Linked DNA regions of Homo sapiens. The protein of the gene in region 1 interacts with the protein of each later gene in a pairwise test. Each region holds a gene or a part of one and is shown on either strand. Other genes may lie near its edges. The genes, in order: XRN2, YTHDF1, EIF3L, DSCAM, EXOSC10, USP16 and UPF2.

Region 1 (3,500 bases):
ATGAAAGAGGTAACATCACTACAGATTCTAACAATATTAAAAGGATAATAACAAGTTAACAGGAAGAAAAAAGAAAACAAAAGAGAAGTAAAAACAGGAGTGAAAACATTTTAATAACAAAAAAAAAAGGATAGTAAGAAAATACTATGAACAACTTTATGTCAGCCAATTCAACTACTTAGATCAGGGGTGTCCAATCTTTTGGCTTCCCTGGGCCACTTTGGAAGAAGAATTGTCTTGGGCCACTAATACTAACGACAGCTGATGAGCTGAAAAAAAAAGAAAAGGTCTGTGCATAAATCTCATGATGTTTTAAGAAAGTTTACGAATTTGTGCTGGGCCGCATTCAAAGCATCCTGGGTTGCATGCAGCTTGCAGGCCACAGGTTGGACAAGCTTGACTTAGATGAAATGGGCAAAATCTGTGAAAGATACAAACTAAAAAAGCTCATCCAAAAAATAAATAAATAAATAAATAGGTAACCTCAATAGTTCTAGATCAACTAAAGAAACTTAATTTGCAGCTTAAAGCCTTCCCACAAAACTCCAAGTCCAGATGGCCTCACTGGTAAATTCTATCAAACATTTTAGGAAGAAACAATACTAACTCTACACAAACTCTTCCAAAAAACTGAAGGAACTCAATTTGAGGTCAACATTATTCTGACATCTCAACTACACATTACAAGAATGCTACAAATATCTTTTGTGAACAGAGACACAATTCTCAAGAATTCTCAAGAAAACTTTAGCAAACTTTAGCAAACTTGAATTCAACGTATATAAAAATAATACAACATGATCAAGTGAGGTTTATCCAAGGAATGCAAGGTGGCTTTAGCATTTAAAGACCGATAATTCACCATATGACTAGACCAAAAAATGGAAACCACAGAATGAAGTAAAACTATAAAACTTCTCTAAGAAAACACAGGAGACCTTGGCTTTGACAAAGGATTCCTTAAATACAAAAAGCAGAAATATAAAGGGAAAAAATTAATCAGACTTCATTAAAATTTTTAAATGTTTGCTCCCAAGACACTGTTAAGAAGTAAAAAGACAAGCCACAGATCAAGAGAAAATATTTGCAAAAGATATATCAAACTAAGGATTTCTATCTAGAATATGTAACAAACTCTACATTTAAGTAAGACAACCGAAGATAAAAATGAGCAAAAGATCTGAACAGATGCCTCACCCTGCCCGTGATGATATACAGAAAGCAAATAAGCATCTGAAGGAAATGCAAGTTAAAACCACAATAAGGTAACAGTACACTGGACTACCTAAAACTAAAAGGGCTAACTATATCAAGTGTTGGTGAGGAAGTTGAGCAACTGGAACCCTGATATGCTGCTGATGCCAATGTAAAATGGCACAACCAGTTTGAAAAAAAAAGTCTGGCAGGTTTTTCTTTTTAAGTAATCACACACCTAATATACAATCCAACCATTTCACTCCTAATGTTTTTCCCCCAAACAAATGCAAGCATACGTCCCTACAATGACTTGTACAGAGATGTTCATAGGTTTCTTTTTCAGAAAGCCAAAAACTGGAAACAATCCCAATGTTCATCAATCATCTGAATAAATAAATAAAATGTGGTGTATCTACACACAGAATACTATCCAAAAATTAAAAGACGAGGCAGGCAGATACTTGAGGTCAGGAGTTCAAGACCAGCCTGGCCAACATGGTGAAACTCCATCTCTACTAAAAATACAAAAATTAGCCGGGTGTGGTGGCATGTGCCTGTAATCCCAGCTGCTTGGGAGGCTGAGGCAGGAGAATTGCTTGAACCCAGAAGGTGGAGGTTGCAGTGAGCCGAGATCGCACCACTGCACTCCAGCCTGGGCGACAGAGCGAGACTCCATCTCAAAAAAAAATAAAAACAAAAAAGAAATAAACTACTGACACATACAACAACGGAAGAATTTCAAAATAAGTATACTGAATGAAAGTAACTGAGGCAAAAAATGAGTATATACTATATAATCTCATTTATAAAAAATTATAGAAAATGAAAACTTATCATACGGTCAGAAAGCAAACCAGTCAGTGGTTGGCAAAAGACAGGTGGCAGGGAGGGATAGTAGAAAGGAACTACAAAAGGGCAGAAGGAATGTTTTAGAGGTCACGTTCACTGTCTTGGTTGTGCTGGTTTCACAGATGTATGCACTGTATTAAATTATATACTTTAAGCCCAGGACTTTGAGGCTGCAGTGAGCCATGATTGCACACTACATTCCAGCCTGGTGACAGAGCAAGACCTCAACTCGAAAAAAGTTAAAAGAAAATTGTACACTTTAATTACCTGCAGTTTATTCTATGTCAAGTATACCTCAACAAAGCTGCAAAAACACCAAAGGTTGGGGGAGGTTTCAAGGAAAGCCAGAGAATGAGAGAGAAAATAAAAATAAAAATACATGAGTCTAAGAGGACCAGTATCCTGAGTCTGGAAAGGGAAGAAAAAAAGGTCAAGAAATCATCAAACAGCATTCCCTAAAACCGAAGAACGTAAGACTCCAGACTCAAAGAGTGAGCCACGTACTGATCAAAATGAATCTGAATTTAAAATAACATCTATACCTGGGTACCTAATAATGAAAGTTTACACTATCAAGAAAAAGATCTTTTTAAAATCTAGGAAGGAAAACTGATCACAAAAGAATGAAAGCATATGAGCATAAAAATTAAGTCCTTCTGGTTTCCACACTAGCTCTGACATTTATCAGCTGAGTGACCTTGGGTATGATACGCGACCCTGCTGTGTTTCCATTTTCTCATCTGAAATAATAATAAACATAACAATAATCATTATTTTTCTGAGATGGAGTCTCGCTCTGTCACCAGGCTGGAGTGCAGTGGCGGGATCTCGGCTCACTGCAATGTCTGTCTCCCGGGTGCAAGTGATTCTCCTGCCTCAGCCTCCCAAGTAGCTGGGACTACAGGCGCGCCACCATGCGCAGCTAATTTTTGTATTTTTAGTAGAGATGGGGTTTCACCATGTTAGCCAGGATGGTCTGGATCTCTTGACCTCGTGATCCACCCACCTCAGCCTCCCAAAGTGCTGGGATTACAGTCGTGAGCCACCGCACCCGGCCAATAAACATAGTAATTATTATAACATAATAACAATATTGGTTGTCTCCAAATAACGTGCTTCTATTATTTGTATGTAATAAAAATAATTACAACAGTAGAAGTCATGTGGTTGTGAGGATCAAACAAGTTATAATAAAGTTCTTAAAACAATGGTAAATGCTATATAACTGCTGGTTAAATAAATACATCACATTAACACCGAACTTGTCATCAACACTACTAGATGAGAGAGTACAAAAGAACAATTTCTTTCAAAGTTCTGAGGGAACCTAATATTAAAACTGGAATTCCTGGCCAGGTGCGGTGGCTCATGCCTGTAATCCCAGCACTTTGGGAGGCAGGGGCTGGTGGATCACCTGAGGTCAGGAGTTCAAGATCAGCTTGGCCAACATGGTG
Region 2 (3,500 bases), about 42 Mb from region 1:
AGCCAGCCCTCCTCCTCCCATTAGCTGGACACGTGCTCCTCAGCAGCGCTGCAATCACAACACATCTTCCTTCCACGCAAAAAGAGCAGATGGGAAAAAAAGACCTCGATGGCTGTGTGGTATTCTAATCCACTTGGCCCCAACACCAACCAGAGGAGTCAGGCCACAGAAACAGATGCCCAGGGACACTTCTGACTTACACCTAAAGCCTTAACTAAGACAGGACATCACTTACCACATGAAAAAATCCACATTACATGAGGCATGTAACATTCCTGAAAATCCGTTTTAAGTATTAAATGGACACACCTAGCACACACGCTGCACAGACAGAGAGCCCATAAATGACCCATCCAGCTTCCCTCTACCCAAGGTGCAGGGCCTGCAGTTCTAGCCAGTACTCTGCAAATCCTTCAGCTCCAGATCACCACCATTCACATCCTGAGCCACAGAAGACGGTGACGCTAATCAGCTCTGCTGGCAGCCCTAAACCCTCCTGATACTTTCTGTGCTCACCGGGTTCCACGGCCACACAGGCAGGCTGGATACAGTGACCTGGGGTTCTGTGGGCCGGATTTCCATTTTTACCTCAATCTCACTGACAGCCCATTTCCTATTACATCTGCCATCTTTCCTCCAAAACTCTGAAGGTAAAGAAGCAGGTTAATTTGTAAAGCTATGTGAAGTCAGTCATTCTGTACATAAGAAAACCTGGAGATGCTGTCCTCTGCCTTCTTTATGAGCCACATGTCAGGCTGCTGCCCCACACTCCTTCCCTGGTGAGGGAAGCTGTCCCATTCACAGTCCTGGTCACAGTGCGTGGGAGACAACTGGAAACGCACAGTTCGGGCTGCCTGGAAAACACATGCAGCCTCCTTTCAGGGCCTTTGATCTCCCTTTGTCTCCCGCACAGCCAGGCACAGGTTCAGCGCTCACTCGCTGCCAAGTGCTGGAGGCGAGCTGTGCTGCTCCCTCAACATTCCTTAGTGCCACGGCTCCATGGGCACTGAGTTATGAGTGTGAAAGTTTACTTCTCAGGGATACAGCTGCATTAACCCCGGGCACGGTGACTCATGCCTGTAATCCCAGCACTTTGGGAGGCTGAGGTGGACGGATCACAAGGTCAGGAGATCAAGACCATCCTGGCTAACACTGTAAAACCCCCCTCTCTACTAAAAACACAAAAAATTAGCCGGGCGTGGTGGTGGGTGCCTGTAGTCCCAGCTACTCAGGAGGCTGAGGCAGGAGAATGGCGTGAACCCGGGAGGCGGAGCTTGCAGTGAGCCGAGATCGAGCCACTGCACTCCAGCCTGGGTGACAGAGCAAGACTCTGTCCCCCCCACCCCCCTCCAAAAAAAAGAACAAATTCAAAGCTTGTTCTTAACACATTACTACCTCTGAGCAAGCATATTTTGGTCCTCGTAAATGAGTGGCATAAACAGATCTTTTAAGGACAATACAAGCAAAACCATGATCCTGTTACTCTGCAGCCGCCTCCACAGAAGACTGCTGAACACTTCCACATGCTAGGCGCCTCACTGCAGCCCCTGCGGAGAACTGACGACCTCATCGAAGAAAGGCTAACACATTTTTAGCCGGGCACAGTGGCTCTGGCCTGTAATCCCAGCACTTTGGGAGGCCGAGGCAGGTGAATCACAAGGTCAGGAGTTCGAGACTAGTCTGATCAATATGGTTAAACCCCGTCTCTACTAAACCGGGTATGGTGGCAGGCACCTGTAGTCCCAGCTACTCCGGAGCCTGAGGCAGGAGAATCGCTTGAACCTGGGAGGTGAAGGCTGCCATGAGCCAAGATCACGCCACTGCACTCCAGCCTGGGTGACAGAGTGAGACTCCGTCTCAAAAAAAAAAAAACAAAAACAAACAAAAAAGAACTAAGAGCAGTTTTACATATTTACTCAAATTTAACCACATTAAAAAAAAGAAACTTCCATCCGAATGACCAGAACCATTTAAGTTGAAGTTCAATGGTTAAGTTTACTTCCTATATCCATTTTTCTGAGATGGAGTTGGAATGACCAAAAGGAGAGACTAGAGGGAGAAGCAGAAAGGATCCCTTCAGAAGCCCAAGAGGAACAGAGAGAAGCATTTGCTTAATAAAAACAAACAAACAAAACAAAATAATTAATTATGTAAAATGGAAAAGTATTAAGGGTACTGCTGAAAAGTGAGGGAGTGATATGGCTCCTGGGAAGCAGCTCTGACCCAGGACTGGGAACAGGCCTACCAGGATGACCTGTTCTTCAGGAGAAGCCTTAGGGAGCACAGAGAAAATGTTAGAGGAAAATAACCGAAAAACCCTAATTTACTTACTTGGCTGCTCACTTTTCAGATCTGTTTTCAGGACTGGTCCCTCTGAGGCTGCAATTTCAGCCCCTCAGCTGGTGGCATCAATATGCAGAGACAGCAGTTTCTGACAGAATTTCTGCATTTGTTTCAGCAACTTGCCAGTAAGAAGCACGTTAAGATCCCACTATGTCCTTCCAGCTGCGTTTCTGGGAAGCCGTTGTGATGGCAAATGCCTACTTAGCAGGCGCTGCCACTGGGTATTTTAAGGAAGCCCATATTTTTAGATGCAGCCACAAGAAACTGACACTCCCCTGCTGGCCCTCAGGTCACCCCGGGCCCACCAGAGCTGCCCAGGCACAGCAGGAAGCCCTGTGCCAAGCATCTCCAGGCTGTTCTCAAAGAAGTCCTAGATGCTCTGATGAGGCATTGTGTTCAGTGAAAAAAAACCACCCAAAACCTGATGAGCAATTTCGTCACTGTGTGATCAGTGTCCTCACACAAACAGAGACGTGTGAGCATGGAGGCAGTATCCTTACCACACACTGAGGCCGTAACCTGTACAGTGTGTAACTGTACTGAATAATGGAAGTAACTGTACATCAATGATAAGTATCTGTGTGTCTAAACATTATCTAAACACAGAAAAGGTACAGTAAAAATACGGTATAAGAAATCAAGAACGGGACACCTGTACAGAGCACTTACGGTGAATGGAGCAGGTAGGCCTGAGTTGCACTGGGTGAGTCAGGGAGAGAATGTGAAGGCCTGGGCCCTCACTGGACACCACTGTCACCTTTAGAAACACCGTCCACTTAACACTACACTCAATTTTTAAATTTTCCTTTCTTCAATAATAAACCCTAGCCTACTATGGCTTTTTTACTTTACAAACTACTTTTTTAAAAGCTTTAAGGTTTTTGACTCTTTTGTAAACACAAATATATCATATAGCTGTACAAAAATTTTTTTTGTTATATCCTTATTCCATAAGCTTTTTTCTATTAAATTTTTTTTAACTTTTTGAACTTTTTTGTTATAAATGAAGACACGGCCAGGCACAGTGGCTCATGCCTATAATCCCAGCCCTCTGGGAGGCCGAGGCAGGAGGACTGCTTCAGCCCAGGATTTCGAGAACAGCCCAGGCAACACAGTGAGACCCCATCTCTACAAAAAATCAAAAATAAGGCAGGAAG
Region 3 (3,500 bases), on another chromosome or scaffold:
CAGAGCGAGACTCACTCTCTCTCAAAAAAAAAAAAAAAAAAAAAGAAACTTCACGTACTCTATAATTTAGAAGTCGGGAAGAACAGAATCTAGCAAGTGCTCAAAGTTGGGATAATGTGTAGAATACTGGTGTTATAACAAGCTGGTCTAGATTCAAGGAGTTTTGTCACTTACTAGCTGGATAAATTTGAGAAAAGGTAACCTCTTGGCACCTCGGGTACCAACTTTGCACGATTGATAGTAGAATTAGATATGTGAAGATGTGTGCTAAGTGCCTAGCATTGTGCTTGGCATACAGTGACAGTGTTATGTACATCTCAGAGAAACAGAGGCTCAATGCTCTGAAGGGAAAAAGAACCCCAAGCAGAAGCAGCAGCAGGTACCTGGAAATATCCTATGAGGCTGGCAGCCTATAACCAGTGCATGGGTGATTGCCCAGTCCAGGAGAATTGTGGGGACAGAGAAATTTAAAAGAATGCATAGGTTATATAGCGTTAGTGTGTCTGAACAGCTTTCTGGGTTAAACTGTTCCTTCCACCGCTTCTTAAAACTCAAAAACATGCCAATCATGCCCAGACACTGAACCAATATAAACAAATGACTGTGTTCTAGGGACAAAAACAGCACAGAGTTAAAAAAACAAAAACAAAAAAAAAACTGCGACACTTAAATACTTACACTGACTTTGGCATATATGTGCCTGTAGTATAATTCTTTGTATAAAATCAGGAAGACAGCATCTGAAAGAGATGGCAGAAGGGTGCTTCACTAACCATAAAACTGGGGTATCCTGGCAGCTTTAGCTCTTTGGTGGGGAGGAATAAAGGTAATTCTGAAGACTAAACAACATCTAAATTGCTATGCATATGCCCCAAGAATACATGCAATGAGAAAATCCACTTCTCATTTGACTCCATCAACCTCAATCTCTGTCGATGAGATTAAGATCTCATTCAGATCTATTTCCTTTCACCATTTAGAGACTTCTGCCATCCAAGTGCATAAAAAAACCAGCACACAAGAGTAATTAGACAAGCGTGGTGGTGCGCACCCATGGTCCCAGCTACTCGGCAGGCTAAGGTGGGAGGATCGCTTGAGCCCAGCAGGCACAGGTTGCAGTCAGCCATTATCACACTACACTCCAGCATGGGCAACACAGTGAGACCCCCATGTCAAAAAAAAAAAAAAAAAAAAAAAAAGGAAGAAAGAAAATATTAATTTCAGAATGTTGTTTGTTTGTTTGAAGACAGGGTCTCGCTCTGTTGCCAAGGTTGGAGTGCAGTGATATGATCATGGCTCACTGCAGCCTCGACTTCCAGGGCTCAAGTGATCCTTCCACCTCAGCCTCCCGAGTAGGTGGGACTACAGGCATGTGCCACCATGCCTGGATAATTTTTTTAAAAAATTTTTTGTAGAGAAGGGGGTCTCCCTATGTTGCTCAGGCTAGTCTAAATCTCCCAGCCTCAAGAAATCCTCCCACCTCAGCTTCCCAAAGTACCAGAATTACAGCCGTGAGCTACGACACCCAGCCACAGAATGAGTTTTGAACTCATTCTGTGTTTAGTCAATTGAGAGTAAATGTTCAGGCCAGGTGCAGTGGCTCATGCCTGTAATCCCAGCACTTTGGGAGGCTGAGGCGGGTGGATCATTTGAGGTCAGGAGTTCAAAATCAGCCTGGCCAAGATGGTGAAACACCATCTCTACTAAAAATACAAAAAATCCGCCAGGTGCCTGTAATCCCAGCTACTCGGGAGGCTGAGGCAGGAGAATTGCTTGAGCCCAGGAGGCAGAGGTTGCAGCGAGCAGAGATCGCGCCACTGCACTCCAGCCTGGGCAAGACAGCAAGACTCCGTGACTCCATCTTAGGGGGAAAAAAAAAAGGAGTTAAGTGTTCAAAAAAACGTTAGCTATAACAAAACAAATGAGAGACTTGTACACTGAAAACACAAAACACTGGTGAACGCAACCAAAGACCTAAATAAATCAAAGACATCCCATGTCCATAGATTGGAGGACTTAATATTGGTTTTTTTTTTTTTTTTTTTTTTTGGGACGCAGTCTTGCTCTGTCGCCCAGGCTGGAGTCCAGTGGCGCAATCTCAGCTCACTGCAAGTTCTGCCTCCCGGGTTCACGCCATTCTCCTGTCTCAGCCTCCCGAGTAGCTGGGACTACAGGTGCCCGCCACCATGCCGGCCTGCCCAGATAACTTTTTTGCATTTTTAGTAGAGACGGGGTTTCACCGTGTTAGCCAGGATGGTCTCGATCTCCTGACCTCGTGATCCGTCCACCTTCACCTCCCAAAGTGCTGGGATTACAGGCATGAGCCACCGCGCCTGGCCTGGAGGACTTAATACTGTTAAGACGGCAATACTCCCCAAAGTGATCTTCAGATTCTAGGCAATTCCTCTCAAAATCCCAGCTGGCTACTTTGCAGAAATTGACAAGTCCATCCTAAAATCAATAAGCAAATCCAAGAGACCCAGAATAGTCAAAACAATCTTGGGGAAAAAAAAAAAAAGAACAAAGTTGGAGGACTTACCAATTCCCAATTTCTTTCTTTCTTTTTTTTTTTTTGAGGCGGAGTTTCGCTCTTGTTGCCCAGGCTGGAGTGCAATGGCGCGATCTCGGCTCACCGCAACCTCTGCCTTCCGGGTTCAAGTGATTCTCCTGCCTCCACCTCCCAAGTAGCTGGGATTACAGGCATGTGTCACCATGCCCGGCTGATTTTGTATTTTTAGTAGAGATGGGGTTTCTCCACGTTAATCAGGCTGGTCTCGAACTCCCGACCTCAGGTGATCCACCCGCCTCGGCCTCCCAAAGTGCTTGGATTACAGGCGTGAGCCACTGCGCCCGGCCTACAATTCCCCATTTCAAAACTTACTACAAAAATATAGTAATCAAGACAATGTGGCTGGGCACAGTGGTGCATGCCTGTAATCTCAGCACTCTGGGAAGATCACTTGAGGTCAGGAGTTCAAGATCAGCCAGGTCAACAAAGTGTGACCCGGTATCTACAAAAAATTTTTAAAAATTAGCTGGGCAGGCTGGGTGCGGTGGCTCATGCCTATAATCCTAGCACTTTGGGAGGCTGAGGTGGGCGAATCACCTGACGTCAGCAGTTCGAGACCAGCCTGGCCAACACGGTGAAACCCCGTCTCTACTAAAAATACAAAAATTAGCTGGGCGTGGTGGCGGGCGCCTGTAATCCCAGCTACGCGGGAGGCTGAGGTAGGAGAATTGCTTGAACCTAGGAGAATCGCTTGAACCTGGGAGGCGGAGGTTGCAGTGAGCCAAGATTGTGCCACTGTACTTCAGCCTGGGAGACAGAACGAGACTCCATCTCAAAAAAAATAATAATAATAAAATAAAATAAATAAATAAATAAATTGGTGCCAGGGTAGCTGAATATCCACAAGCAAAATAATGAAGTTGGATTTGCCTACCTCACCCATATATAAAGGACATCATCTAAGAAAGTCAAAGGTGGGAAGCTAGAGAGC
Region 4 (3,500 bases), on another chromosome or scaffold:
AGTCAGATGCCATATCAACACATTTTCTGTACTCTGTCATCTTAAAATTCATTGGTCTATCATACCCTTGGAAGGAATGTTTTACCCACACATGATTTTGTAACATAAAAAGTTGATCATTTGGAAATGATTGGTTCACTGTGTTACACAGATCTTCCAAATGTTGATACAATTTGTTATACAATATCAAAATATCACAACTACTAACATTACCATGATCTCATCAGAAAGTCTTCAAGTAAACTGTCAAGTTCATGCTGATGGATGCAAGTTTTCTAAAATTCTATTCTTTCTTGAAAGATTCAATTTTATTATTTATAATAAACACCATCAATTGTAATTGTAGGAGTGATGGGCTCATTTATCTGTAAGAAATTGTTTGACAAATAGAAAAGACCGCATAACCATCGTTTTTAGGTAGCCATTCTTTTAAGAAAGAAATGGAATTCCATGAAGAAAAGCAGCTGGTCGAATTTGCAACTCAAGCAAGCACAGACATACTCTGCTTGAAAATAGCCGTGCTGCTCAGGAGGTGGAGGAAACACTGTGCCTTCTTCCCATTTTATTACACAGGACATAGAACATTAAAAATAACGTGAGCTTTAGGGTAAAGATGTAATAAAACTGTTATGTTTCCTGCTTCGTCAAGTGTCTGTAAGTGAATCTGGCATTTTTAAAAAACCAACTCACAGTATGCATCGGTAAACAGTACAATGAATAGTCATCCTGTTAGTGTCCCTGCTGGGATTCATGGTAACGCCCAGCAGTCTCACCCACCATGGCTTTTGCTCCAACAGTGCAAATGTCAACACCATGAGAAAGGCAAACAGCACCTCAGCATTGTCATGAAAACGATTTTCTTCTTACAGATCACCTAAAATTGTCTCAGGGATCCCTACAGGTCTGTGAGCTACATTTTGAAAACATCTAATACAGTGCTAAAATTTTAGTTTATTTTTAATGTTTGACCATTACAAATGAGGCATCAAATGAACTTCTTTATGCATTGGCCTTTGTCTGATTTTAAGATTATTTCTTTCGAGAAAAATTTCCAGAAGTATGACCATTGGATAAATAGGTATAATACTTTAATGTAATTTTTAGGAGACATAGATTTAAACGAAAGCCCTTTGAATCATTAACATTTATTCTTTAAATTTGCCAGATCAGTATAAATGAATGTATTCATCTTAATCCTTTTGAAGTGACAGAAACCAACTCAAACTAGCTTATGGCCAAAAGAATAATTTATTGTCTCTTATAAACAATATATTTATGATTTTAGGAAATAATTCTATTGAATAATTTTTTCTTCAGGAGCTTCTTTTCTTCTGAATACTTATCATATAGTATAAAACTTGTCAGCTCCTTTGCAAGTACTTGCAAACAAAAGAAGGAAAATATTATTTTATGTGGTATTTTATTGCCTGGAGAGAAATGGCAGTTGTTGGGATTTGGGGCTTGCCAAATTTTTCAGAATAGTCGGGAAAAGCTGCCTGGAAAAAGTGAGATTTTGAGCAAAGATGTGAAGGGGTTCAAGACAGCTCATGGATACCTGGGGAAGGGACATCCTAGGTAAAGGGAAGAGATACAACCACGGTGTCTAGAGTTTGCCTGGCAAGCTTGAGGAATAACAGAGAGGCTGGTGTGGTGGGAGCCAAGTGAACAAGAAAACACTAAAAGGCCCTGAGTCAGAAGGAGCAGAACCTTTTCACGGGGGACTTACTAGATCAGGACTTCGGTTTTCAGGACGTGGGGTTTTCTGCTGAGTGAGATGGGGGCTTTATTGGATGACTTTAAACAGAAAAGTCACATGGCCAGACTAAGGTTTTAAAAGGATGCTTTTAGCCAGGCAAGGTGGGACGAGCCCGTAGTCCCAGATACTCCAGAGGCTGAGACAGGAGAATACTTCCAGTCTAGTAGTTTGAGGTTGTGGTTGTGGTGCACTATATTTGCACCTGTGAATAGACACTGCACTCCAGCCTGGGCAACATAGTGAGACCCCATCTCTAAAAAGAAGAAGGACGCATCTGATTCCTGTGCTGAGAATGGTCTATTCGGGGAAAGGGGGCAAGTAGAATGACCTGTTGGAAAGTGAATCCAGGTGAGAGATGATGGTGGCTTGGACCAGGGGGAGAGCAGAGGAGGTTGGGGGTAGAAGACAGACTCCGGATCTATTTCGAAGGTCTATTCAGTCGGTTTTCCTAGTGGTTGGATACAGGTGTGAGGAAAATAAAGACATCAAGGATCAGGTCAGGCTTCTGGCCTGAATATCAGGAAGAATGGCATTGCTTTCTACTGAGTCAGCAGAAGATGCAGTGGAGCCGTTTGAGGAAGGCGATTAGGAGTCTAGTTATCGATGTGTTGAGGTTGAAATACACACTAAACAAAGAAGTGGATGCTGTCAGTAGGAAATTAGATATGGGAGAGTAGAGTTCAGGAATCCAGGCTGCAGATCTGGTGACATCAGTGAATAGATGATGTTCAACACCAAGGCCTGAACAGGACCCTCAGGGGACTTTGTGCACTACACCGCAGATTTTAACTTCATATGTACAGGCTTCCCCAGCCCCCAGTCAGGCTCACATTAGAACCCTTCACCAAATATCTGAAAATAAAGTCTGACAAAAATTCAAACAAGGACTGTTTGAAATGTAAGTTTACCTATTTTTAGATTTCCCAGATTGGCACAGATCCATGTATTGACTATGACCCCATTGGTTGCAAGGTGCGAGAACCCAAATTACCTTTGCTTAAGCAGCCAGGTGCAGAGGCTCACTGCTGTAATCCCAGCTACTTGGGAGGCCTAGGTGTGATGTGGTACGCACCTGTAGCTCCAGCTACTCCGGAGACTCAGGCAGAAGAATGGCTTGAGGCCAGGAGTGCAAGACTGTGGTGAACTACTTCCAAAACACAGTAACAGTTTTACACCATTCGCAATCTTAGCCTTTACTCAGAACTTAGAAGGGTCTTAAATAAAATGACTTCTGAACATTTAAGTTTACATTTTAAAATATTTTAACCTCAGCACTTTGGGAGACCGAGGCAGGAGGATCACTTGAGGCCAGGAGTTTGAGATCAGCCTGGCCAACGTGGCAAAACCTGGTCTCTACTAAAAATACAAAAATTAGCCAGGCATGGTGGCACACACCTGTAATCCTAGATACTCAGGTGGCTGAGGAGGGAGGATGGCTTGAACCCAGGAGGCGGAGTTTGCAGTGAGCCAAGATAGCACCACTGCACTCCATCCTGGGTGACAGGGAAGACTCTGTCTCAATCAATCAATCGATCGATCAGTAAAATGTTTTTAAATGAAATATTAATATATAAAGTAAATTATACTCCAATGGTCAGGATTGTAGTTTATCAAGGCTTTTTAAAAATTAACCTTTACTATTTTCAGTTACCAAGTATTAGGGGAGGGAGATAAGAAATTAGCTAAATTTTAGGAAAAGACTTAGAATTTTGGCTTTCCCTGTGGATTAGGATTGAAAGAGACT
Region 5 (2,752 bases), on another chromosome or scaffold:
GTATTCATTTATGTGAGCCATGAGCCCTAGCCCCTCATCGTGACAGGGGTGCTCTCACAGCCAAGGCTTCCCTGAGTGTCATGGTCCCGGCCTCGCTGTGAGCCTGTGATGTGTGGTAACTCATTGACCTGACCGCAGGTCTCTCTCATCTCTTACCTTTCAGGAAACAGCAAATCCAAAGTTTCTTCTCAGTTTGATCCAAATAAACAGACCCCGTCTGGCAAGGTAAGAACTGCTCCTGGAGGATTTTAGCACGCTGGTGGCGCCTGTTTCTGACCTCCTCCTCTGCTGAGAAGACAGGCCCATCCAGGAGTCCATTCCTTTGCATATCTTTTTCCTCACCTCATTTCTTCCCAAGGGCAGACAGTACTGATCAGCTACCCCAGCAACTCATAAAACGAGGCTGTAAAAGCTGGCATGTGGCTTTAAAGGGTATTATTCTGTGTTTGCTACCATGGGAACTATAGCTGCAGGCCAAAAGCACCCCCTTTGGGGCCAGCACAAGCCTGCATTCACCCCTCGTGGGTGTTGGTGCTGGTGCCAGGGAAACAGCGTGGCTGTAGCTTCCACAGGCGCGGGGGCAGGGCTGCTTTGGGGTGCTCCTGTTCCTCTTGCAGCGCATCCTGGCGGCCTTGCCTTCAGAGACACAGAAACATCCTCTCTCAGGGGATCTAAAGTCACTCCTGTGCTGCTAGAATCTTTGGCCACCTGAGCTCAGGTGTGTTTTTCTGTGTATCTTGTGGTCAAGGTGCCCACCCAGCTTAAACGGTTTCTTTTCTTTTCAGAAATGCATTGCAGCCAAAAAAATTAAACAGTCGGTGGGAAACAAAAGCATGTCCTTTCCAACTGGAAAGTCAGACAGGTATGTGGTGGACGGCGGTGTGGCCCAGGGAGCCCAGTGAGAAAGCACCTGCCCTGCGTGGTGTGGTCCGTGGGGAGTAGCTGGGGAGCGAGTGTCCAGGGGTCTTCAACCAGGATGACTCAGAGAACCTCCCACAGCCAGGTCCCTCACGCCACTCGGAAAACAAGGGCGGGAGGTGATTTGCTCTGTGCCATACATCACAGAGCCAGGCACTGCACCCCAGGACTCAGATTCCCCTTGTTCCTGGCTCTCTAGTTACCGTGTGTCCTGGGGTCACCTCAGGGAAAATAGGTGTAAATAGTTGTGAAATTTTCCTGGACCAGCCTATTAGGAATGAGGAAAAAGTAAGCACATGTGGGTTATCCTTGTTGTTGAAGAGTGGTTTGGCTTGGTTTGGTTTTGTTTTGTGAGAGTCTCATTCTGTCACCCAGGCTGGAGTGCAGTGGCACAATCTCAGCTCACTGCAACCTCCACCTCCTGGGTTCAAGCAAGTCTCTCACCTCAGCCTCCCGAGTAGCTGGGATTACAGGTGCCTGCCATCATGCCCGGCTAATGTTTTTTTTTTTTTTCTTCTTTGAGATGGAGTCTCGGTCTGTCGCCCAGGCTGGAGTGCAGTGGCACGATCTCTGCTCACTGCAAGCTGCGCCTCCCGGGTTCACGCCATTCTCCTGCCTCAGCCTCTCGAGTAGCTGGGACCACAGGCGCCCGCCATGATGCCCGGCTAATTTTTTGTATTTTTTAGTAGAGACGGGGTTTCACCATGTTAGCCAGGATGGTCTCGATCTCCTGACCTTGTGATCCGCCCGCCTCGGCCTCCCACAGTGCTGGGGTTACAGGCGTGAGCCACCGCGCCCGGCCTGTTTTTGTATTTTTAGTAGAGATGGGGTTTTGCCATGTTGGCCAGGCTGGTCTCAAACTCCTGGCCTCAATTGATCCTCCCGCCTTGGCCTCCCAGAGTACTGGGATTACAGGTGTGAGCCACTGCACCCAGCCAAATGTTTTTGTTAAAAACATAAAATCCTAATAATTAAGCCGACCCTGAGGTCAGGGGACTTGCCCGAGGGCAGGAAAAACAGGTCTGCCTTCTCAAGATGCTGCTCAGCTCAGCCAACTCTGGTGGGCCGCCGAGTTCTCTGGGGCCCCTGAGCAAACCATTCTTCCTCTGTTCTGCATGATTAAGATTTGCACCATTTTGTAAACCATCTGAGAACATCCAACCAGCCCGGAAGAAATAACTGTTGTTTTTGTACTCTCTGCAGAGGCTTCAGGTACAACTGGCCACAGAGATAGTCCTGGAAGACACGTGGCGCCTGTGGACCGGAAGCACCAAATGCTGGTGCTGCTTTTGTACATACATATTTTTAAACCATTAAAATTCTTCCTGAAGAAAGCTGATTCCTGACTTTTATTTTGTTGCCGCCACAGCTCTGGCAGGTTGCCATCCTGTTCAGGCAACCATCTTCAGCTGTCTGTGGGCAGGTGAGTGTGCTCCGGGGGTTATGGTGACTTCTAGAAAAATCCAGAGCCGGCCGGGTGCGGTGGCTCACGCCTGCAATCCCAGCACTTTGGGAGGCTGAGGCAGGCGGATCACGAGGTCAGGAGATCGAGACCATGCTGGCCAACACGGTGAAAGCCTTTCTCTACTAAAAATACAAAAAATTAGCCGGGCATGGTGGTGGACGCCTGTAATCCCAGCTACTCAGGAGGCTGAGGCAGGAGAATCGCTTGAACCTAGGAGGCGGAGGTTGCAGTGAGCCGAGATCACGCCACCTCATTTGAGCCTGGGCAGTAGAGCAAGACTCTGTCTCAAAAAAAAAGGCAAATGCAAAGAGAAAATTTTAATCATTTGTAGTCCTGTCACACAAAGATGCTTTTTTCCTTTTTTTGAGA
Region 6 (3,161 bases), on another chromosome or scaffold:
AAGGCTTATAAAGAAACATTGCTCCCATTTATATTCTGCTGTCAATATAGATGCTTATAAAATTAACACACTTGTATGGCCCAGCGCGGTGGCTCAAGCCTGTAATCCCAGCACTTTGGGAGGCCAAGGCAGGTGGATCACGAGGTCAGGAGATCGAGACCATCCTGGCTAACACGGTGAAACCCTGTCTCTACTAAAAATACAAATAATTAGCTGGGCGTGGTGGCGGGCGCCTGTAGTCCCAGCTGCTCGGGAGGCTGAGACAGGAGAATGGCGTGAACCTAGGAGGCAGAGCTTGCAGTAAGCTGAGATCGCACCACTGCACTCCAGCCTGGGCGACAGAGCAAGACTCCGTCTCAAAAAAAAAAAAAAAAAAAAAAAAAAAAAATTAACACACTTGTAATGAAGCTTCATTAGCCAGTCTGATGAAATATTTTTTAAAGTGTTACCTAGTAGGATAAGTCAATAGAAGTTAAAATCTTCCCAGTAATAAAACAAGATTTTAGGGTAAGTCAGTTTATTGATGTGTTGTGATCCATCACCCAGATATATTAAACACAAAGTACTTAAGTAATTCAGGATTTCCTTTCCAGAAACAAAGCAGGAATAAAAACCACTATGACAATATAAAACCTTTGTACATTTTTAGGTATTTTTCCCTTCAATATTTAAATAAACATGATTTCTTCTGGCATGTATTTAATGTTAAGTGAACATGATTTTAATTAGTCTTTTTTTATCGTTATTTCAGCCATTATAAAAGCCATAAATGTGTTTCCAGAAAAAGTGCTTTTGATATTATTACAGTATTCTCTCATAAAATAGGAGGTACGCTTGTGAGTTTAGTACTTTAGTTGTAGGCACAGCTTGCACATGTGTGTCGCTGATGTGAAACCACTGCCCTTTTGATTCCATTTCAAAATCTGTCATGAGAAAATGAAAAATCAAACATAAATGGAAAGATTCAAGTTGATTACTTTTTGGTTTTGCCGTAATCTGCTGAGTGCCTGAATTTTCCAAGACATCTTACCTTGTGGAATATCACCGTGAAGAACAAGATTAGAGAGATGACTATTTGCGGTTCTTGCCTTGGCATAGGCAGTGTAATGCCCCGACCTCATAGTACCACTGTGTTCAACAACTCCATATAAGGAATAGAGTACCCTTGTATTTTCTTCTGCAACATTCTTTAAAAATGAGTAGAATCCAAAAGTTAGTTCTAGTTCCATTTACACAGATGTCATGGGCAAGACAAGTTTACACTATGCAAAGGGTCTTTAACCATTACTTTGAGAGTGCAGAAATCATTCATGAGTCTACTCTTTTCTCCATACCTCTTCTCAGCCTGAGACACTTCTGTTTTTATTATAAATTCACCATTGTTCCCCTGGTAGAAAAGCTGTAAGCCACAGGCCACTTGATGCAGTTACCTGGCTCAGATACCAAATAACTGAATTCAACTTGCCAGTTTCTTTAGGAGCCTGAGGATAATTCTTAACAACCCTAGCTATTAACAACTCTGAATACCCTGTTTAAAAAAAGGTAAGCCCTGAACAGGAAGAGAACAGTATTTTAGGTTGTGCCAAAAATTACCCCTTACATCTTTAAATGTCCCCAAGGGAGTTGGTGAGAAGCACATTCAACCTCTCAAGTGTTCACTTTCCCCACGAGAGAGTGCACGCTGCTTATTCTTTCAGGACTCTATATGCCATAGGGCTGGCAACAGGAACAGGCATTCTCTGGGCCAGGAGCCACTTTTCAGACAACTATTTATGTTCTCATGTAAAAGTCCGTAACAGGCATCACGGCCCTTCAGTAGTACTGTCTCCTATACTCAGCTTCCCAATCTGTGCCTCCATATTCACTGAAGAACTTAGTACTTCTCCGTCCATCTATGATTCTCACAGGACTTTAAATGCCATTCCATTTTAGTCAACCACACCCAGGACTAGAGTCTGGGCTTGTCATCACTCAGAATTGTTCAACTTCATAAAATTTTTTTTGAGACAGGGTCTCACTCCGTCACCCAGGCTGGAGTGCAGTGGCATGATCTCAGCTCAATGCAACCTCTGCCTCCTGGGCTCAAGTGATCCTCCCGCCTCAGCCTCTGGAATAGCTGGGACTACAGGTGCACACCACCATGACCTGCTAAATTAATTTTTTGTAGAGATGGGGTTTCAGCATGTTGCCTGGGCTGGTCTCAAACTCCTGAGCTGAAGGGACATAAATCTTATTTTTAGTCTTAGTCCACAAGTCTTCTATTTATTCAACTCTCATCTCACCTATTCTGTACTCTTTAACCTAACAGGATCTCCAATGCTCATATTCTCCTCACCTATGAAGACTTTTGGCTTCATTCCTGATATGGTTTGGCTGTGTCCCTACCCAAATCTCATCTTGAGTTGTAGCTCCCACAATTCCCACATGTCATGGGAGGGTACCCGTTGGGACGCAACTGAATCATGGGAGCAGGTCTTTCCCATCCTTATTCTTGATAGTGAATAAGCCTCATGAGAGCTGATGGTTTCTTAAGGGGGAGTTTCCCTCCACAAGCTCTTGCTTTGCCCGCTGCCATCCATGTAAGATGTGACGTGCTCCTCCTTGCCTTCCGCCATGACTGTGAGGCCTCCCCAGCCATGTGGAACTGTAAACCTCTTTCTTTTGTAAATTGCCCAGTCTTGCCCAGTATATCTTGTCCAGTATATCTTTATCAGCAGCATGGAAACTGACATAATATAATTCCCATATGCAGTCTAGACCATTGCTATTCAAAATGTGGTCCATGAACAGCCAGCATCAGCATCACCTGAGAGTTTACATTAAACATGCAGAATTTTTGATCCCATACTAGACCTACAGAATCAAAATTTGTAGGTCTGATTCCCACATACACATTAAAGTTTGGGAACTTCAATCACATGTATCACTTACAAATAATCTCCTCCATATCCAATTCATCACAAAACCTCACCCTGAATCCTATAATGTACCTGCCATGCCCCAAACCCAGATGGCCACTACTGCCAAGAAACAAAAGTATAATAAATGATCATGTACCTTGTCATAGTCCTCAATGTGACCATAATCTTATAAATTGTCCTTAGCGGCCTCTTCCATTATGCCCATCACAGCAACTGGCCCAGACTTTTTTTTTTTTTTGA
Region 7 (3,500 bases), on another chromosome or scaffold:
TTGCTCTATACTTTTCTACTGTAGTCCTGGAGCCCCCAAATGTATCTTCTTCCAACGTGGGATGTTCAATTCAGAGACACTGAAACTCAAATCAAGTTTAAAGCTCAAGTTCATTTCCCCCACACCATTACCATCACAACCCGTTTCTTCTCTGGCTCAATCATCTCCTTCACGCTCTCCTTGGTGTAACTGCTCAGTAGTCAAGTGAACCATCTCATTTCTTGACTGCCATTCTCAAGAGAAGATTAACCCTCGCGAGATTTCCATTACAAAAGGCCTTTTCCGCCTTGTCTGGAAGCGTCGGCTTGTTCCGGTGTTGGCAGAGGCTGGTGTTTCTGCCTCCTGGCCCCAGCCTGTCCCAGGTTTAGATTCGCAACTCTCTAGACCGACCTGCTGAGATGTGTCCACTGCTCTCATTCAATTGCTGGAGGACTCCACTAACCACAACATCAGATACAGGACCTAATGAAATGACACGTGCTGCTGGATCAACGTCTCCTAAAGGAACAAACAGGGTCACATCAGAGAGCTTACTGCCACAGGACAAAGTCCAGCAAGATGGCGTCTGCAACGCTACCCACCACCACCAAGTCACTCCCCCAAGTTACAGGTGGCCCTGGCATCTGCGGGTTCCACATCCATGGACCAAAAATATTCGGGGGAAAAAAACCCAAACAATAAAAAATAACATAAATATTAAAAACAATACAGTATATCAACTATCTCCATAGCATCTACACTTTATTAGGTATTACAAGTAATGTAGAGATGATGTAAAGTACACGGGAGGATGTGCATATGTTATACATAAATGCTACACCATTTTTTACCAGGGACTTGAATGTCTGTGCATTTTGGTGTCTGAGGGGATCCAGGAAGCAACCCCCTGTGGATACCGAGGACAACTGTAGTGCTTTTTTGAGAGCATTCATGCTCTCTACTGAGCTACAACTTAACCAGAGCCATTGGAGCAATGGCTGGAGGAGTGGCTCTGTTCTCTTCTACAACTTATTCTTAAGGTGCTAAGAATTCACAGTTTGTGTTATGGTTCAGTTGTGTATCCCCAAAATTCACATGTTAACACTGAACTGCAGGACCTCAGAATGTGACCGTATTTGGAAACAAGGTTGCTGTAGACGTAATTACTTCAGATAAGGCCATACTGGAGCAGGGTGGAGCCCTAATCCCATATGACTGCATCTCTATAAAAAGGGAAATTTGCACACAGACACACACAGGGGGAAAAGGCCACGTGAAGACAAAGGCGGAGACCAGGGTGAGGTATGACAAGGTATGGAAGCCAAAGACTGCCGGCACCCCCAGCAGTAGAAGGCAGGCCTGGAGCAGTCTTCCTCCAGGCCTCAGAAGGAACCAGCCCCGCTGACTCCCTGACCTCAGGTTTCCTGCCGGCGGCCTCCAGTGCTGCGAGACAACAGACATCTGTCGTTTAAGCTACTAGGGCTGTAATATTTTGTCATGGCAGCCCAAGCAGATGAACAGTTTGTTTCTTACAGAGCAAGCTACCTTAGCAAGAAACTTTCAAAGCGTTAAGATGCAAATATGGAAAAGTATATCCTCAGCTGGATAAGATCCGTAACTCTTCCAGAAATGAACTGATGGAAAGAACACAAGTATTCCCTGAGGGAATGAAAGAGAAGATTCAAGCATCTCTCCTGAAGTCAAGAAAAGGCAGCTATCTAACCTAGAATACTTTAAATAAATGCAGTAAATGACAGGAAAAAAATGTTCAAAATCTTTGCTAAGTAAGGTATAGTTATATCACTAGTTATAGTGTAAGGTGTCATTTGACTGGTTTATAAGCAAACAATCATTCTGAGTGACTCAAAAATCTATCAGCTCAAAAACTGTTTATTAATACAATATACACTTTGGATTAAATGCAATTCTACAATGGACTCTATTGTATAACAAAACTATCACTAATTTAACCTTACATAAAGATATATAAAAAAAAAATCTGATGAAAAAATGCAGACTCTACTTAAGATAGGTTTACAAGAGTTCAATATCAGCCTGGGCAACATAGTGAGACCTCGACTCCACTAAAAATAAAAAAAATTAGCCATTTGTAGTGGTGTGTGCCTATAGTCCCAGATACTGAGAGGCTGAGGCAGGACTGCTTGAGCCCAGGAGGTCGAGGCTGCGGTGACCTGTGATCACGCCACTGTACTCCAGCCTGGGTGACAGAGCAAGAACCTGTCTCAAAAACAAAATAAAACAACAACAAAATCATTTTTAAAAAGATGGGTTTAAAAGTCAGATAGTATACTCCTATGCCGCTAAGTGTAGGCCACACACCAGCAGTTTTGACATCACTGGAGATCTTGTTTAAAAGTAACCAGAGCTTGTTGTGCTCACTTCAGCAGCACATATACTAAAAATTGTAGTGATACAGAGAAGACTAGCATGGCCCTGTGCAAGGATGACATGCAGGTGGGGTGCAGTGGCTCACGCCTGTACCCTCAGCACTTTGGGAGGCTAACGCAGGCAGATCACTTGAGGTCAGGAGTTTTGGAGACCAGCCTGGCCAACATGGTGAGACCTCATCTCTACTAAAAATACAAAAATTTGGCTGGGCGCGGTGGCTCATGCCTGTAATCCCAGCACTTTGGGAGGCCGAGGAGGGTGGATCATGAGGTCAGGAGTTCAAGACCAGCCTGGCCAAGATGGTGAAACCCCGTCTCTACTAGAAATACAAAAATTAGCCAGGTGTGGTGGCAGGTGCCTGTAATCCCAGCTACTCGGGAGGCTGAGGCAGAGAATTGCTTGAACCCGGGAGGCGGAGGTTGCAGTGAGCAGAGATCACGCCACTGCACTCCGATATAGCGAGACCCCATCTCAAAAAAAAAAAAAAAAAAATTAGCTGGGCGTGGTGGCACATGCCTGTAATCACAGCTACTTGGGAGGCTGAGGCACAAGAATTGCTTGAACTCGGGAGGCAGAGGTTGCAGTGAGCCGAGATCCCGGCACTGCACTCCAGCCTGGGCAACAGAACAAGACTCCATCTCAAAAAACAACAAAAAAGAATGACACACAAATTCGTGAAGCTTTCCACAATAATTAAAAAATAATAATAAAAGAAACTAATCAGAACTTGCTTTTTAGTAAGAGTCTAGAGAGTTAATACGTATTTTAAAGTTTGAGAAGCATTGAAATAACCCATATGAATTAGTACCATCTAAGCCATGTAAGTATTAACACTTGCCAAAAATGTTAAGTTTCACAGATTTTCAATACTAGTGTATTAGAAAAACAACCTTGTTCTGCAATACAGAAAACCCTACATAATAGTTTTACTTACAGCACTGCTGCCGTTTCAACTCATTGTAAGCAAATGCCTCTTATTTGTTAAAGGGCTGAAATTTTAATTTATGTCCTTATTTCAAGGATCTCCTGGTTAGAAAATATACAAATACAAATTAAAATCTGGGAGTCCATCAAAAGCTACAGGAGAAAAATAGTTTATGCCGGGCGTGGTG

The links.
Region 2: the proteins of XRN2 (region 1) and YTHDF1 interact in a two-hybrid assay, tested with the Homo sapiens proteins (one large-scale study listed by BioGRID).
Region 3: the proteins of XRN2 (region 1) and EIF3L interact in a two-hybrid assay, tested with the Homo sapiens proteins (one large-scale study listed by BioGRID and IntAct).
Region 4: the proteins of XRN2 (region 1) and DSCAM interact in a two-hybrid assay, tested with the Homo sapiens proteins (one large-scale study listed by BioGRID and IntAct).
Region 5: the proteins of XRN2 (region 1) and EXOSC10 interact in a two-hybrid assay, tested with the Homo sapiens proteins (one large-scale study listed by BioGRID and IntAct).
Region 6: the proteins of XRN2 (region 1) and USP16 interact in a two-hybrid assay, tested with the Homo sapiens proteins (one large-scale study listed by BioGRID and IntAct).
Region 7: the proteins of XRN2 (region 1) and UPF2 interact in a two-hybrid assay, tested with the Homo sapiens proteins (one large-scale study listed by BioGRID and IntAct).

The regions. Positions count from the first base shown.
Region 1 is NC_000020.11:21,306,331-21,309,830, reverse strand, and holds part of XRN2 (5'-3' exoribonuclease 2), read right to left. Parts: intron 1-3,500. UniProt on the Homo sapiens protein: Possesses 5'->3' exoribonuclease activity. May promote the termination of transcription by RNA polymerase II.
Region 2 is NC_000020.11:63,206,132-63,209,631, forward strand, and holds part of YTHDF1 (YTH domain-containing family protein 1), read right to left. Parts: intron 1-3,500.
Region 3 is NC_000022.11:37,855,919-37,859,418, reverse strand, and holds part of EIF3L (eukaryotic translation initiation factor 3 subunit L), read right to left. Parts: intron 741-3,500; coding exon 679-740; intron 1-678. UniProt on the Homo sapiens protein: Component of the eukaryotic translation initiation factor 3 (eIF-3) complex, which is required for several steps in the initiation of protein synthesis.
Region 4 is NC_000021.9:40,333,159-40,336,658, reverse strand, and holds part of DSCAM (cell adhesion molecule DSCAM isoform CHD2-42 precursor), read left to right. Parts: intron 1-3,500. UniProt on the Homo sapiens protein: Cell adhesion molecule that plays a role in neuronal self-avoidance. Promotes repulsion between specific neuronal processes of either the same cell or the same subtype of cells.
Region 5 is NC_000001.11:11,066,118-11,068,869, reverse strand, and holds the end of EXOSC10 (exosome complex component 10), read left to right. Parts: intron 1-163; coding exon 164-225; intron 226-785; coding exon 786-862; intron 863-2,121; coding exon 2,122-2,152; 3' UTR 2,153-2,252; downstream 2,253-2,752. UniProt on the Homo sapiens protein: Catalytic component of the RNA exosome complex which has 3'->5' exoribonuclease activity and participates in a multitude of cellular RNA processing and degradation events.
Region 6 is NC_000021.9:29,051,828-29,054,988, reverse strand, and holds the end of USP16 (ubiquitin carboxyl-terminal hydrolase 16), read right to left. Parts: intron 1,188-3,161; coding exon 1,031-1,187; intron 924-1,030; coding exon 802-923; 3' UTR 501-801; downstream 1-500. UniProt on the Homo sapiens protein: Specifically deubiquitinates 'Lys-120' of histone H2A (H2AK119Ub), a specific tag for epigenetic transcriptional repression, thereby acting as a coactivator.
Region 7 is NC_000010.11:11,920,810-11,924,309, forward strand, and holds part of UPF2 (regulator of nonsense transcripts 2), read right to left. Parts: intron 499-3,500; coding exon 489-498; 3' UTR 1-488. UniProt on the Homo sapiens protein: Involved in nonsense-mediated decay (NMD) of mRNAs containing premature stop codons by associating with the nuclear exon junction complex (EJC).